Regions from separate parts of the Homo sapiens genome. Here region 1 is linked to region 2. Evidence: fine-mapped expression QTL. A gene starts in region 2. The other region holds a variant in brackets. All regions are shown on one strand. Distances are from middle to middle.

Region 1 (2,913 bases), 190 kb after region 2:
ACACTATTCTTTTGGAGCAAAACTTTAAAAGGAACCCTGTATTTATTCAGTTAGTTATAGGTATAGTAAGGCACAGATGTCGATCCAAATGGAAGTTATGAACATTGGTTGATTGTAGTATTGTGTCCGGAATTGGTTCCTTCCGGTGGGTTCTTGGTCTCGCTGACTTCAGGAATGAAGCTGCAGACTCTCGTGGTGTTACAGTTCTTAAAGATGGTGTGTCCAGAGTTTGTTCCTTCGGATGTTCAGATGTGTCCGGAGTTTCTTCCTCCCGGTGGGTTTGTGGTCTCGCTGAGTTCAGGAGTGAAGCTGCAGACCTTCACAGCGAGTGTTACAGCTCTTAAAGGTGGCGCCTCTGGAGTTGTTCGTTCCTCCCAGTGGGTTGGTGGTCTCGCTGGCTTCAGGAGTGAAGCTGCAGACCTTGGCGGTGAGTGTTACAGCTCTTAAAGGTGGTACATCCGGAGTTGTTTATTCCTCTTGTTGGGTTCGTGGTCTTGCTGGCTTCAGGAGCGAAGCGGCTGACCTTCACGGTGAGTGTTACAGTTCATAAAGGTAGTGCGGACCCAAAGAGTGAGGAGCAGCAAGATTTATTGCGGAGTGAAAGAACAAAGCCTCCACAGTGTGGAAGGGGACTCCAGCGGGTTGCCACTGCTGCCTTGAGGGGCCAGCTTTTATTCCCTTATTTGGCCTCCTCCACATCCTGCTGATTTGTCCATTTTACATAGTACTGATTGGTCCATTTTACAGAGTGCTGATTGGTCCATTTTTATAGAGTGCTGATTGGTGCGTTTACAAACCTTTTTTGGTGCGTTTTTACAGAGTGCTGATTGGTGCATTTACAAAGCTTTAGCTAGACACAGAGCGCTGATTGGTGCATTTACAAATGTTTAGCTAGACACAGAGCGCTGATTGGTGCGTTTTTACAGAGTGCTGATTGGTGTGTTTACAAACCTTTAGCTAGATACAGAGCACTGATTGGTGTGTTTACAATCCTTTAGCTAGACAGAAAAGTTCTCCAAGTCCCACCCAACCCAGAAGCCCAGCCAGCTTCACCTCTCAGTATTTTGGGATTTTATTTTTATTTTTTATTTAAAAAAATTTTTTTGAGACAGGGTCTCACTCTGTTGCTGGAGTGCAGTGGTGCAATCATGGTTCACTGCAGCCTTGACCTCCTGGGCTCAAGCAATCTTCCCACTTCAGCCTCCGGAGTAGCTGGGACTACAGGCATGTGCCACTGCACTTAGCTAATTTTTAAATTTATTATTTTTTAAATTTTTACTTACTATTATTTTTTGAGACAGGTCTCACTCTGTTGCTCAGGCTGGAGTGCAGTGGCACATTTCTTGGATAACTGAGCCTCAACTGCCCAGGTTCAAGCAATCCTTCCACCTCAGCCTCCCTAATAACTGGGTCTAGAGGTGTGTGCCACCATGCCCGGCTAATTTTTGTATTTTTTATAGAGATAGAGTTTCACCATGGTGCCCAGGCTTGTCTCAGACTCCTGGGCTCATGCAGTTCACCCACCTCAGCCTCCCAAAGTGCTGGGATTACAGGTGTGAGCC[A/T]CTGTGCCTGGCCTGATATTTTTATTATAATAAAATATTTTCTTTGTTTGAAATGTTATTAATAACTTTATTTTTCTTCAGAATATCACTGAGGAGGAATTTTTAAATTTTTTGTAGATATGGGGTCTCACTAGATTGCCCAGGTTGGTCTTAAGCTCGTAGTCTCAAGCAATCCTCCCACCTCAGCCTTCCAAAATGCTGGGATTACAGGCAGGTAATCCTAGCCTATTTTGGATTTTTTTTTTTTTTTTTTTTTGAGACAGTCTTGCTCTGTCACCAGGCTGGAGTGCAGTGATGAGATCTCGGCTCACTGCAACCTCCGCCTCCCGGGTTCAAGTGATTCTCCTGCCTCAGCCTCCTGAGTAGCTGGAACCACAGGCACACGTCACCACGCCCAGCTAATTTTTGTATTTTTAGTAGAGACAGGGTTTCACTATGTTGGCCAGGATGGTCTCAATCTCTTGACCTCGTGATCCGCCTGCCTCGGCCTCCCAAAGTGCTGGGATTACAGGCTTGAACCACTGTGCTCGGCCTATTTTGGGTTTTTATAGCATAGGTCATCTAAAATGCTGTCATAAACCTGTATGGTAATAGAATGTAAAAGATCATGATAGGACCTTTGGAGAGTCACTAGTCTGTGCTGCTATAGCACAATACCACAGGCTGGATAATTTATAAATAATAGAAATCTATGTTTCTTTGTTTTGGTTCTGGAGGCTGGGAAGTGCAAGATCAAGGCATTGGTAGTTTTGGTGTGTGAGGTGGGTTACTCTCTGCTTCTGCTTCTAAGATGATGCCTTGTTGTTGTATTCTGCAGAGGGGACGAATGCTGTATCCTCACATGGCAGAAGGGACAGAAGGATAAGAGGGCACTCTCTTCGATATGGAGCCCTTTTATAAGGATGCTAATCCCATTCATGAAGGCAGAGCACTCATGAATTAATTACCTCCCAAAGGCTCCACCTCTTAATACTGTTGCACTTGGGATTAAGTTTCAACATGAATTTTGGAGGGGATACCATCATTCAAACAGCAGAGACAATGATACCATCATTCAAACAGCAGAGACAAACTTCTTTAGGAATGAGGAAACTAAAGCTCAGAGGTGCTTGGTCATGACTTGCTCGTGATCAACCAACAGTTAATAGCAGAGCTAGAACTAAGCCCCAGATTCTTACCTGCAGTTCAGTCTTCTTTCTACACTGCTGTGCCTTCTCTTATATATCTACTTTCTGTGTCTCATTAATATTGTCTTAATATTCACTTGATCCTTTTTTCATCTCCATGAAAGGAGAAAAAAATTATTCTTAGCTTTTTATTTGTGCAGTAAGAGAAGTAGATGAAATAATAT
Region 2 (2,913 bases):
TATGGGGTAATACCTTACCACGCAAAGTATGGTCGTAGGACCAGCTACCTCACCATCAGCTGGGGGCTTGTTAGAAGGGCAGAATCTTGGGCCGCAACCGCAACCCAGACATCCCGAATCAGAATCTGCATTTAGCAGGTCCTCAGGTGGTTAGTGTGCAAATTAAACCTTGAGAAGCACAGATATGATGGACCCTCCTGCCCCCATCACTCAACAGTCAGGGTCAATCTTGTATCATCAATACCTTCCCCCAGCACAGGATTATTTAAAAGCAAATCCCTAACATTAGGAATGTCTTTTTGTTTGTTTCACTCTAATGCCCAGGCTGGAGTGCAGTGGCGCAACCTCTGTCTCCCGAGTTCAAGCAGTTCTCATGCCTCAGCCTCCCAAGTAGCTGGGATTACAGGTGTGTGCCACCACAACCGGCTAAATTTTGTATTTTTAGTAGAGACGGGGTTTCATCATGTTGGCCAGGCTGGTTTTGAACCCCTGACCTCATGTAATCTGCCCGCCTCGGCCTCCCAAAGTGCTGGGATTACAGGTGTGGGCCAACGCGTCCGGCCAATAATTTATAAATATCACCTCGTCAATGTTCAAATTTTCATTAATAACCAATCTTTGAGGTCCTCTGGATTGCGATAAGGATTATACCAAGATGATTTAATTCCTCCACTTTCCCTGCAACGGAATTTCTTTTTACCCACGTGAGCTAGAGTCTCTGAGATGCTGCACACTAAAAGAAACACCAAACAAAGCTCTTGGAAGGGGCTAATGCCTCTCAGCATAAACACACACACCCGTCTCGCCCCAACACTTGCCACGCCGGCAGCAAACGCTCCATCTCCCGTGGAAGGCCAGCAAAACTTAGAAGAAAACGTCCGCGAAAACGGCACGAGAAAGAAGCGAAGAAAATGAAACGCTTACAACACCCTCCACCCAAAATAATCTCTCCTAGTATTACCCTAGTGAATGGACATCACTAGTAAGGCGCGGTTTAAATCTCCCGGGGTTCGTGGGGCTGAGGGAACGAGGAAAACAGAAAGGGTGTGGAGATTGGTGAGAGGGAGAGCCAATGATGCGCCAGGCTCCCCGTGAGGCGGAGCTTACCCCGCAGCCTGCCTAACGCTGGTGGGCCAAACACTATCCTGCTCTGGCTATGGGGCGGGGCAAGTCTTACCATTTCCAGAGCAAGCACACGCCCCCAGGTGATCTGCGAGCCCAACGATAGGCCATGAGGCCCTGGGCGCGCGCGCGGAGATTGGCTGACGCAGCTTAGAGGCGAGCGGGGATAGGTTACTGGGCTGGCGGAAGGTTTGAATGGTCAACGCCTGCGGCTGTTGATATTCTTGCTCAGAGGCCGTAACTTTGGCCTTCTGCTCAGGGAAGACTCTGAGTCCGACGTTGGCCTACCCAGTCGGAAGGCAGAGCTGCAATCTAGTTAACTACCTCCTTTCCCCTAGATTTCCTTTCATTCTGCTCAAGTCTTCGCCTGTGTCCGATCCCTATCTACTTTCTCTCCTCTTGTAGGCAAGCCTCAGACTCCAGGCTTGAGGTAAGTCCGCAGCCGTCTCCGCCACGGAATCACGGAGACCCCATTGTCCCCCTTAGGGTCCAGTCGGGCCCCCACAGACAGAGGTTGGGAGGGCCGAATGGGGACTATCGCGAGTTACGAGACCCGGGTTCTTTCTAGTCAGGAGTCTCGAGCTGTGTGGCGTGGAACAAGTCAAAATCCTCTCTTCATTCCATCTTTAAGGTCCTAAGGTTGCCTCTCGTCGGTGAATTCAGGTTCTAACCTTAAGCCAGGCTGTGAATCACCCTTCGGGGTTGCCCCTCTTCCAGTGTTGATTCGCCTGGCTGGAAAGGGTGGAGGAGTTTAGGAAAGCTGAGGGAACTGTGATGTACCGATTTAGATGACGTTTTCCTCCTAGCTAGGTTTTGTTTTTCTCCTGGTGAGAATTCGAAGACCATGTCTACGGAACTCTTCTCATCCACAAGAGAGGAAGGAAGCTCTGGCTCAGGACCCAGTTTTAGGTCTAATCAAAGGAAAATGTTAAACCTGCTCCTGGAGAGAGACACTTCCTTTACCGTCTGTCCAGATGTCCCTAGAACTCCAGTGGGCAAATTTCTTGGTGATTCTGCAAACCTAAGCATTTTGTCTGGGTAAATATACTTTTATTTTTACACTGTATTGCCTTTGCTATTTCCAAACAGTTGGGTTTGTTTGTTGGTTTGTTTTCAATTATCCCGGCTCAAAGGTCAGGCTTTAAGTCTCAACTCTGCCCTTGACTGTGTAACCCTTTTGAGTCTCACCTTCTTTTCTGTGACAAGAAATAATCTCAGCCAGGCGAGGTGGCTCATGCCTGTAATCTCCGCACTTTGGGAGGCCAAGGAGGGCGGATCGCCTGAGTCTAGGAGTTCAAGACCAGCCTGGGCAACATGGCAAGACGCCGTCTCTACAAAAAATATTAAAAGTTAGCTGAGTGTGGTGGTGTGCACCTATAGTCCCAGCAACTCGGGAGGCTGAGGTGGGAGGATTGCTTGAGCCCGGGAGGTGGAGGCTGCAGTTAGCCAAGATCGCCTCACTGCACTTCAGCCTGGGAAACAGAGTGAGACTCTATCTCAAAAAGAAAAGAAAAGACAAAGAAATAATAATCGCTTCCTATCTTACTAGGATCTTGTGAGAATCAAATGATGTGATAACTGGGAAAAGTCTTTGAAAACCGCTGCATTACGAGTCGGTCACTTTATTAGTATTAATATTAGTGTTATTGCAGTTGTACTTTGAATTCTGATCATACCATGTCTCAACTAGCAAAGAGAAGTAGTACCTGAGAAAAACTAGGGACCCCAGGGAGAAATCAAGCCTGTGTTCATAGTGCTCAGGACCGGGAATGTGGAGTCAAGATCCCCCTC

Evidence for each region.
Region 1: its variant is fine-mapped to the expression of CDC25C in nasal epithelium (TOPMed, PIP 0.94).

What each region holds. Positions count from the first base shown.
Region 1 is chr5:138,141,665-138,144,577 of GRCh38, reverse strand. All of the region lies in intron 25 of BRD8 (bromodomain containing 8), which reads left to right. Among named protein-coding and RNA genes, the nearest start is that of NME5, 3.7 kb to the right of the region's middle. The variant A/T (reference allele first, on the strand shown) is at 1,563.
Region 2 is chr5:138,330,234-138,333,146 of GRCh38, reverse strand. It overlaps CDC25C (cell division cycle 25C), which reads left to right and starts at 1,343. Exons shown (of 14, transcript NM_001790.5): 1 at 1,343-1,552; 2 at 1,929-2,160. The coding sequence starts at 1,967. It overlaps LOC100128966 (a long non-coding RNA gene), which reads right to left and starts at 1,042. Exons shown (of 4, transcript NR_146628.1): 1 at 962-1,042. RefSeq lists a silencer at 1,021-1,280 and enhancers at 1,331-1,380, 1,391-1,520, 1,232-2,185.